Linked DNA regions of Homo sapiens. The protein of the gene in region 2 purifies or fractionates together with the protein of the main gene of each other region. This does not show direct contact. Each region holds a gene or a part of one and is shown on either strand. Other genes may lie near its edges. The genes, in order: CDIN1, UBN1 and ZNF606.

Evidence for each region.
Region 1: the proteins of UBN1 (region 2) and CDIN1 purify together in Homo sapiens (affinity purification with mass spectrometry, with the first as the bait; one large-scale study listed by BioGRID). This does not show direct contact.
Region 3: the proteins of UBN1 (region 2) and ZNF606 fractionate together in Homo sapiens (co-fractionation; one large-scale study listed by BioGRID). This does not show direct contact.

Annotation. Positions count from the first base shown.
Region 1 is NC_000015.10:36,578,074-36,581,827, forward strand, and holds the start of CDIN1 (CDAN1-interacting nuclease 1), read left to right. Parts: upstream 1-1,552; 5' UTR 1,553-1,787; coding exon 1,788-1,888; intron 1,889-3,754. UniProt on the Homo sapiens protein: Plays a role in erythroid cell differentiation.
Region 2 is NC_000016.10:4,878,345-4,880,708, reverse strand, and holds part of UBN1 (ubinuclein-1), read right to left. Parts: intron 627-2,364; coding exon 577-626; coding exon of another isoform or gene 459-576; 3' UTR 1-458. UniProt on the Homo sapiens protein: Acts as a novel regulator of senescence. Involved in the formation of senescence-associated heterochromatin foci (SAHF), which represses expression of proliferation-promoting genes. Binds to proliferation-promoting genes.
Region 3 is NC_000019.10:57,985,744-57,989,397, forward strand, and holds part of ZNF606 (zinc finger protein 606), read right to left. Parts: intron 2,979-3,654; coding exon 2,852-2,978; exon of another isoform or gene 2,847-2,851; intron 2,560-2,846; coding exon 2,464-2,559; intron 1-2,463. UniProt on the Homo sapiens protein: May act as a transcriptional repressor.

The DNA.
Region 1 (3,754 bases), on a different chromosome or scaffold from region 2:
ATCACTTCCGGTCAGGAGTTTGAGACTAGCCTGGTCAATAAAGCGAGACTTCATCTCTAGAGAAAAATTTTAAAATTAGCCAGGTGTAGTGGCATGTGCCTGTAGTCCCAACTACTCGGGAGGCTGAGGTGGGAAGATCGCTGGAGCCCAGGAGTTCGAGGGTGCAGTGAGCCACGATGGAGCCACTGCACTCCAGCCTGGGCGACAGAGTAAGACTCCATCTCTACATCAAACATACACAAATAAAACACCTCCATGAATTAAATCAGTTTTACAGACAAAAGAAATGAGGCTTCGATGGATTAAGGAATTTATTCAAGGAGGTATATCTAAAACTTCCAACCCAGGCATTATTCCAGATGAAAAATTTTAAACCACTTACAGGTTCTCTAAAGTCTAAGCACCTTTGCTTTAGTTTGCTTAAATTGTTGAAATCAGAAGAGAAACACAACACATGACCTTCTAAGAACCAAACAGATTTTAGAAAAGAGATTAAATGAGGGACTGATATCCCAACAAATTGCTTTAGGAGAACTGAGATCCATTCACAATACATATAGAAAATAAAAAAAGATTGGCTCATTACTCCAAACATTTATTGAGCGCCTACTATTTTCTGAGAACTGGGGTTACAATAAGATGCGATTTTAGACCTTGAGCAGCTAACTGCAAGGAGTGAAAGTGACTTTTTTTTTTTTTTTTGAGACGGAGTCTCGCTGTCGCCCAGGCTGGAGTGCAGTGGCGCGATCTTGGCTCACTGCAAGCTCTGCCTCTCGGGTTCACGCCATTCTCCTGCCTCAGCCTCCTGAGTAGCTGGGACTACAGGCGCCCGCCACCACGCCCGGCTAATTTTTTGTATTTTTAGTAGAGACGGGGTTTCACCGTGTTAGCCAGGATGGTCTCGATCTCCTGACCTCGTGATCCGCCCGCCTCGGCCTCCGAAAGTGCTGGGATTACAGGCGTCAGCCACCGCGCCCGGCCAAAAGTGACATTCTTTACTGCCGGCTGTTTGATGACGTCGGATTTGTTTCAAGTCTGTTTCTCAACAAGGACAAAACTGCCTTCCACGCGATGTACAGAAGTTGTAGGGCTTCCTCAACACAAGCCAAATTATGTTTACAGCGACCCTAGTGAGTTTTCCTGCTCGGACCATGACAGACTTGGTAGAGTGAAGACATGGTTTCTCGGCAGGCCAGTCCACGCTCCGAGGAGCGCTCAAACTGGCGCGTTAGGAAGTGTATTCAAATCGCGCGCTCTGGCAGGGGCTTTCGGGGGCTCACGCTGAAGGATCGCGGGGCACTCGTGAGACCTGCCGCCTGGTCTGTGCGTCAGGCCGCCCTGGCTTCTAGTAATTGGGAGAGTACAAAGCATCCCTTGTTGACCCTTTGATCCTAGGTGGGCGATGCCCTGGATTCCTACCTGCCTACTGAAACTCTGGCGCGGCGCCTTTCCAAGGGCGGCCGCTACTTCCTGGTTGGTTTGCCCTTAACTGACATGGCGGCTAGTTGCCTTCGGCGCACCACTGCGGCTGCTCAGTAAGCCAAGCTAGGGCACTCTGGTGTACAGCCAGTCCCCGCCGCGGAGGTGCCGGTGGAGCCTGGGACCGGGCGAGTCTCCGCCCCGCTTTTGCAGCTAGGGGTGTGTTTCAGGGGGGATTGGGGCAAGCCAAGCAGGCGAGGACCCGGGCCTGTGCCGCTTTGCCTACCCCTCATCCCTCGGCACCAAGGCTACTTGAGCCCCAGGGTGTTTTTTCCTTGTTCCCGCCACCTCCTGGTCCCTGGCCCAACATGATACTGACCAAAGCTCAGTACGACGAGATAGCCCAGTGCCTAGTGTCTGTGCCGCCTACCAGGCAGAGCCTGAGGAAGCTGAAGCAGAGGTTTCCCAGGTAAGTGTCCATCTCTCCCCTCTCACAGCCCTTTGCCTGCAGCAGCAGTGCCTGGGCCGCCCAGGCAGCGCTTAGGAACCACGTGTCACACATGAGTGGGGAGGAACACCAGTGTCAGGCGTTAGGAGGTCGAGGTTGGCGAAAAAAGGTTTATTCTTTCACTCGCCTTCCACACAAAACTCTTAACGGTGAGTTCATGGCAGCCTTCCAAGGCCTTGCAATTAAATTCAAGTCAACAGATATTTATGGAAAACGTGGTACGTGCTAGGTGATGGGTGAACATAGTAGGTGCTTCATAAATGACCAGAGGTTAATTGACAGATAGTAGGAATGAATGATGGGTGGGAATATGAATTGTAGATTCGAAAGGAGCAAATGGAGGACCCTTTTCAATTGGCCGTTGGAAACAAACAAGGGAGCATAGAGGTAAAGCGGCTTCATACTGTTTGACTGTGGCTTGTACTGTTAACTGTGGAATTAAGTGACCTCAAGGGTTCTCAATCCAATCAGAGAGCAGGGTACCCAGGGATTCCACTCTTGGGTCATTGGCCATTTGAACAACCAGATCTAAAGTTTCTCCATATATGTTATGCATACACACATTCCGGGTGTATTTCATACTTCCTCCCCCAAACACTTCTTTTTTCAGCGATTTTAGAATTATCCAACTTTCTAAGAAAGGACTTTGGGAATTATGTAGATTTCTCATTTTAATGAAGTGGAAACTGAGACCCCAACATTACATGAGGAACCAGTTGAGGACAACCAGGTCACTGTATTTATGTTGTGTTAAAAGCAGAGAATGTTTGTTTACTTTTTTCCTAATGAAAAACCAAATCCAAACCTGTACCATTTTGTTTTGTGGCACTGAGCATGGTTATTCCTAATGGAGAGCTTCCCCATCCTTGACGTATTCAGTCCCTGAACAAACACGACAGAAGTAATTTCTTGAGAAAAGAAAGGTAATTGGATAATAGGTATCAAAGTACAAATTGAAGCATAAGTTTAAGTTCTGTTATGACTTTGCTTTTTGAAGGACTTGGTTTTCCTAGTCTGTAAAATGAAGGAGTCTCTTTTCAATATTATCCAGATTTGATTTAGGGCAATATTTATCCCTTTATAGCCTTTAGTATTTTATCAGACTTGCTAAGAAGGAACAAAATTGACACATAATTTAATTTTCTGTCATTAACTCTTGCCAGTTCTGCACATGAACAGTGAAATGGGTGAAGACTGGTCAGCCAAGGGAATAGGTAGATTTTTCTGGGCAGTTTTAAGAAAGAGCATACATTTTGATATTCTCCTCTCACTATGTATGCAATCACTTGTAATTTTGCTTTTTTTTCTCTTCCTCTCCCTCTTTTTCTCTTTTTCGTTCTTTTCTCTAGCAAATACCTTGTCTTCTCTATAATAAGTAAGTGTCTGTTACTTTAATCAACACTTACAAAAGCCTCCCTTCTGTCTGGTGTATTCTCTTATGCTCTTTTCTTTCTTATTCATGATATACTCAAATCTTTTTCACTTCTCCCAAATGCCATACAGGGAATAAATAACAACTCTCCTTCCACAGGAAACTTTATTTAGAGAGAGCTGAACTACTAATCCGCAAAAGAAGGGATTAAAGAGCTATTTAGGGCTGGGTGTGGTGGCTCACGCCTGTAATCCCAGCGCTTTGGGAGGCCGAGATGGGAGGATCACTTGAGGCCAGGAGTTCCAGATCAGACTGGGCAACGTAGCAAAACCCCGTCTCTAATAAAAATCCAAAAAATTAGCTGGGTGTGGTGGCATGTGCCTTTAGACCCAGCTACTCAGCTACTCCTGAGGCTGAGGTGGGTGAATCACCACATCAAGGTGATTGTTACCTTG
Region 2 (2,364 bases):
CGAGGAGAAACTGGCCCCCACAGTGAGCACACCCTAGGTGTTCTTAGTATTTCGCAGGGACAGTGCAGGTCTCCCAGCTGTGGCTCTGGCCTGAGTTTTGTCCGCTTTGAGCACACAGCCTGGGGATGGGGCGGCACTGTGACCATCCAGGGAGCTTACTGCAGCCAGAAGGAGCCCCTGAGCAGTGGGGTGCTCTGAGGTACTCTGACCAAATGCCAGGGGATCAGGCAGATTCACCCACAGGTGTGCCAACTGCTCTGCCACCAGAGCCTGTAAACACTGTGCCTCCCACCACGGCCCAGCGCAAGCCCCAGCCTAGAGCTGCCCCTCTAACAACCGTCTAGCGACAGAGCTGCAAGGCCCAGAGCACGGGGCAGTCTGCACCTCCTGAGCAGCAAGGGCCCGGCTCCCTCCATGGGAGGCACATCAGAAGTGCCGAGAAGCGCTCCGCTGAGAACTCACGCTCCTCCAGAAGAACACCAAGCAGCAGAAAGGGCGCAGTGAGTGTACATCCTGGGAGACCTGCACGTTCTGATTCCACCCAGACCCAAGTGGCAAGCCTTGCCTCTGAAGCGGTCACAATTTCCGTGGTACAGCAGGCCCTTTCCCGTGAAGCTGAGAAGCACCTGGAAAAGAGTAAGAAAAATTAGAACGCAAGTTTTTCATGCTCTCTGATTTCCTTAAGGCAGTAGTAACCAAACTTCAAGGGAGACACCTAAATAGCAAAAGTCCCCAAATGCTGAGTGTTCTAGAGCTCAAACAAGCCATGAGACACCAGCCAGCAGTTATTCGTGTACACTACTCCTGGCCACAGCCTGCAAGCACACTAGCACTGTGAAGGTCGGTGGTCACTCAGCACAGTGTTTCCAGAACAGCAACTCTGCTGTGCAACTTGGGCTACGTCATCTCAGGCTACAATTGCCATCCTGAGGCGAGGCCTGACGATCACACAGAACTCAAGGCAGCAATGATCATTCATTCTCTTACCATCAAAAGACCCTCAGGTCCTGTAAAGACAAATTCAAAGGCACTAGCATTCTCAGTCCACAGAAGAAAGAAAGGAAAGCAACGCAGACACAAGTCACGCAGCTGAAATGCGCAAATAGCTTCTTACTCGCATCTCGTGTCATCCTATAAGCTGAAGTCCATCTAAGGAAGTGAGAGAAGCTCACTTGGATAACCCTGTTTTGGTATAGTTGCTTTTCTGATTGATTTTCTTTTTCCTCGAACTTTTAAACTGATTAAAAAAAATTTTTTTAGAGATGAGGTCTCACTATGTTGCCCAGGCTGGAGTACAGCAGCTATTCACAAGCATGATCACAGCACACTATACCCTCTGATTCCTGGGTTCAAGCAATCCTCCTGCCTCTCAATGCCACCACATCCAGCCTCTGAGAGCCTTAAACAGTTTTAAAAACTGACTCATAATAATGACACATATTTTATGGGGTACATAGTGATGTTTCAACATCTAAAATGTGTAGTGTCACGTTAGAGTTATTAGCATATCCATCATCTCAAACGTTTTTCATCTCCTTTTGCTGGCGACGTTCAATATCCTCCTCCTAACTGAAACTACATACTACTGTTAACTACAGTCACCCTACAGTGGTATAGAACACTAGCACTTATTCTTCCTATTCTGATAGCCTTTTCATACCCAGAGGAAAAATGAAAATATAGCAGAAAGCAATCTTTTGAGACAGGGTCTCACTCTTGCCCAGGCTGGAGTGCAGTAGCATGACCACGGCTCGCTGCAGCCTCGACCTCCTCGGCTCAAGTGATCCTTCTGCCTCAGCTTCCTAAAGAGCTGGGACTACAGGCACATGCCACCACACCTGACTAATTTTTTTCTTTAAATGTAGAGATAGGGTCTTGCCATGTTGCCCAGGCTGGTCTTGAACTCCTGGACTCAGGCAATCCTCCTGCCTTGGCCTCCCAAAGTGCTGGGATTACAGGTGATAGCCACCGCGTCCGGCCTCAATTACTTTGCTTTTCTGAGAGTAACATTCCTGAGAGTAAGCAAAGGCAGGGCAGCCTGACTTTGGAAAGACCCCTGCTCTCACCAAGGTGGCTCTGCAGCCTCTAGTCTGTAGAGAAGTCACTGCACTTTACTTCTCCTCCCAAGGAAAGGAGGAGTCACTAGTGCTATAGGCTTAGCCCCTCAAAGAAGCACAGTTTCCATTGTGGAGATTTACAGATTTAGTCTTGCCCCATATGGCCTCTGGTGTTTACTATAATGCGCCATGGTGCCAGGGAGCCACAGCACATCATGAGGCAGATGTAACTTGGGAGACGTGCAGCACAGAGGGTCCTTACTTCCACCTGGCACCAGTTCGCCAGGGTTACCTCGGCTGGCTTCCA
Region 3 (3,654 bases), on a different chromosome or scaffold from region 2:
CGGTGAAACCTGCCTCTACTAAAAATACAAAAAAAAAAAAATTAGCTGGGCGTGGTGGCGGGCCCCTGTAATCCTAGCTACACAGGAGGCTGAGGCAGGACAATCGCTTGAACCCAGGAGGCAGAGGCTGCAGTGAGCCAAGATCGCGCCACTGCACTCCAGCCTGGGCGACAGAGCAAGAGTCTGTCTCAATAAATAAATAAATAAAATAAAATAAAAGCCGAAGAGAGAATCCTGAAAGCAGAGAGAAGAAATTCATCACGTACAAGGGATCTTCAATAAGATTAACAGCTTGTTTCTCAGAAACGACTCAGGCCAGAAAGAAAGACAAAAAAACATGACAATCAAGAATTCTATACCCAGTAAAATTATCCTTCAAAAATGAAGGAGAAATCAAGAGATTTCCAGATAAACAAAACGCCACAGTTCACTGTTAGCAAACCTGTCCGACAGGAAATGCTGGCTGGGGATAGTGACTCACGCCTGTAATCCCAGCACTTTGAGAGGCTGAGGCAGGGGCATCACTTGAGCTCAGGAGTTTAAGACCAGCCTAGGCAACACAGTGAGGCGTGGTTGTGTGCACCTATAGTCCCAGCTACTCAGGAGGCTGAGATGGGAGGATCACTTGAGCCTAGAAGGTTGAGACTCCAGTAAGCCAAGATCATGCCACTGCACTCCAGCCTGGGCAACAGAGTGTCTTTTCTATCTCAAAAAACAAAATGGAAATGCTAAAATGAGTTCCTCAGGCTGAAATGAAAGAACATTCAACAGTAACTCAAAATAAAAAACAGCAATAAAGATAGCTACATAAGTATAAAAAGACAATATAAGTAAAATTCTTGTTTCTAGCTCCTTTTTTTCAGTCTGTTAAAAGACAACTGCATAAAGCAATAATTATAAATCCATATTCATGAACACACAATGTATAAAGATGTAATTTGTGACAAAACAGCATAAAAGGAGGAGGGCAGAGCTATACACAAAGTTTTGGTATACTATTAATATTACACTAGTATTAATCCAAACTACATTGTCATAAATTAAGATGTTAATTGTAGGGCCAGGCGTGGTGGCTCACACCTATAATCTCAGCACTTTGGGAGGCCAAGGCAGGAGGATTGCTTGTGCACAGGAGTTCAAGACTAGCCTGGGCAATATAGTGAGACCTTGTCTCTACAAAAAAAAATTTTTTTTTAATTAACTGAGCATGACGGTGCATGGCTGTAGTCCCAGCTACCTAGGAGGCTGAGGTGGGAGGACTGCCTAAGCTTGCAATGCAGAGGCTGCAGTAAGTCAAGATTGTACTACTGCACTCCAGCCTGGGCAGAAGAGCAAGACCTTGTCTCAAAAGATGTTAATTGTAATCCCCAGGGCAACTACCAAGAAAATAACTCAAGATTTTATAGTAAAAGAAAAGTAGTTACCTGTGTGTATGCCTCTGTGTATCTGTGTTTTGGGGGAATAACAGTAATGTGAGTAACAGCAGGGAGTAAAAATGAGTTATTTTTGGTGGTGTTTTTCAGACAGGGTCTTGCTCTGTCACTCGGGCTGGAGTGCAGTGGTGAAATCACAGCTCACTACAGCCTCAACATCCCAGGCTCAAGCAATCCTCACCTCAGCCCCCTGAGTAGCTAGGACCACAGACATGCACCATAAAGCCCAGCTAAGTTTTTTAATAAAGGAGATTTTTTTTTTAGCTTATACATTTTAAGTAGCTTTCAGATATTTGAACATTACCTATATTTTAAAAATCTATTTTGTTTGGTACCCACAAGATCTAAGTAAGAAAGAACAAAAGCCCAAGCCGGGAACGGTGGCTCATGCCTGTAATCCCAGCACTTTGGGAGCCCGAGGTGGGCGGATCACTTGAGGTCAGGAGTTCGAGACCAGCCCAGCCAACATGGTGAAACCCCGTCTCTACTAAAAATACAAAAACTAGCCAGGCATGGTGGCGGGTGCCTGTAATCCCAGCTACTCAGGAGGCTGAGGTGGGAGAATCGCTTGAACCCGGGAGGCAGAGGTTGCAGTGAGCCGAGATCGCACCACTGCACTCCAGCCTGGGCGACAGAGCGAGACTTTATTTCAAAACAAACAAACTAAAAAGCCCAAAAAGACTATTTTTTTGAAATAAGCATCTATAGCTATAGGTTACAAGTTTGGCAATACAGGAAATAAGGAAAATATTTGAAGTAGCTACATGGATAAGAGGTAACCTTAGAGGCAACCTTAGAGGAAGGGACCGCAGAAAACAGGAGCCATCAAGAGCCGACAGCGAGGGAAAATGGCTACCTTATTAGGATGGTGATGCTTCTTTGCTCTAAATCAAAAGCAGCAAGAGAAGAAAGCTCCTTAGAGGGAATTCTAAATGCATCTGAGGAAGGTAACTCTTCATGGCCTTATCCCATTTCTCAACAAAGAGGGCTTGGGGGGAAGTTCCTTGTTCAGCCTGGGGTCTGCCCTCACCTGGACAAGTGCGTTGAGGACATGCCTGCTCCACTGACCACGGCTCTTCTCCTTGCTCCAACAGGGAGATGACCTCAGGCTTGGCAATCTGATTTCCTATGCATGGAGGAAAAGCATGGAAATCATGTCATGAGGCTTCAGGACAGCCAAAGAAAGCTTCTCTTGCCTATTCCTCCCTGTGACTTCTCAACCTGGGCAGAATATGCAAGGTCCTTCCCACTCCATGCTCTTTAAGCATTAGGAGTTTCATCCCTGAACCTCAGGGCCCAAGATCATCTCAGCTCTTCTGAGACACCACCCTCGCCCCTGCAATGAGCTTCTAAACATGGAGCAGCTGAAGGCATTACCATGGGAACAGCTTCGTTTACTTGGGCAGCACCTGCCTTACCCACAGAGAGCAGGTGACCATAGGTCTCCAGCATCACATCACGGTACAGGGTCCTCTGAACAAGGTCCAGCTGCCCCCACTCTTCTTGGGTGAAGTCCACGGCCACGTCCTTGAAGGTCACTGGTTCCTAAAAGAACACAAACGTTCCTTCTCAGCCTGTGACCACCCCCTCCAATATTTCCAGGGATGGAGTGAGGCTGACAGCCCTGGGGAGAGAAGACAGGATGTAGAGAAACTCTCCTGGTTATTCAAGAGTCTGACTAATGTGAGTCAGGTCTCATTGAGAACCACCCAAGACCTCATATTTGTTATATACTCTTAGGGAATTAGATACCTGGGTCCACAATAACCACAGCAAAGCTGAGCAGGTCTCTTCGAAGACTCTTGCCAAATTCCAGCACACTGGCTATGTCCCCCACCTTGGCAACACCCCTCTTCTGGAAAGGCAGTCATATAAAAAGGCCTGGACCAGTGCAGCAACAGGCTATGAGCACTGGCTACAAGCGAGACCTTGAGGATGGAGTCTTTGCTCCGACACCCAGATAAAGGACCTGAAAGGGTGATCTGTACATTCACAAGTTGTCTTTCCAGCCATGGTGGGGAGGTTTCCATTCTCAGTTCATCTCTGTCCCAAGGACTGAAGCTAAGGGTGAGCAGGATGCCCCAGAGCAGCCCAGGCCAAGGAGAATCGGTTACAGCTGCCATTAAAAGCACATTAGTTACAAGCAATCTAAACTGATTTTTTTTTTTAATGAAAGCAAGAAAACTAACTGGAAAACGAGAAGGAAAAAGGAAAGGTAATC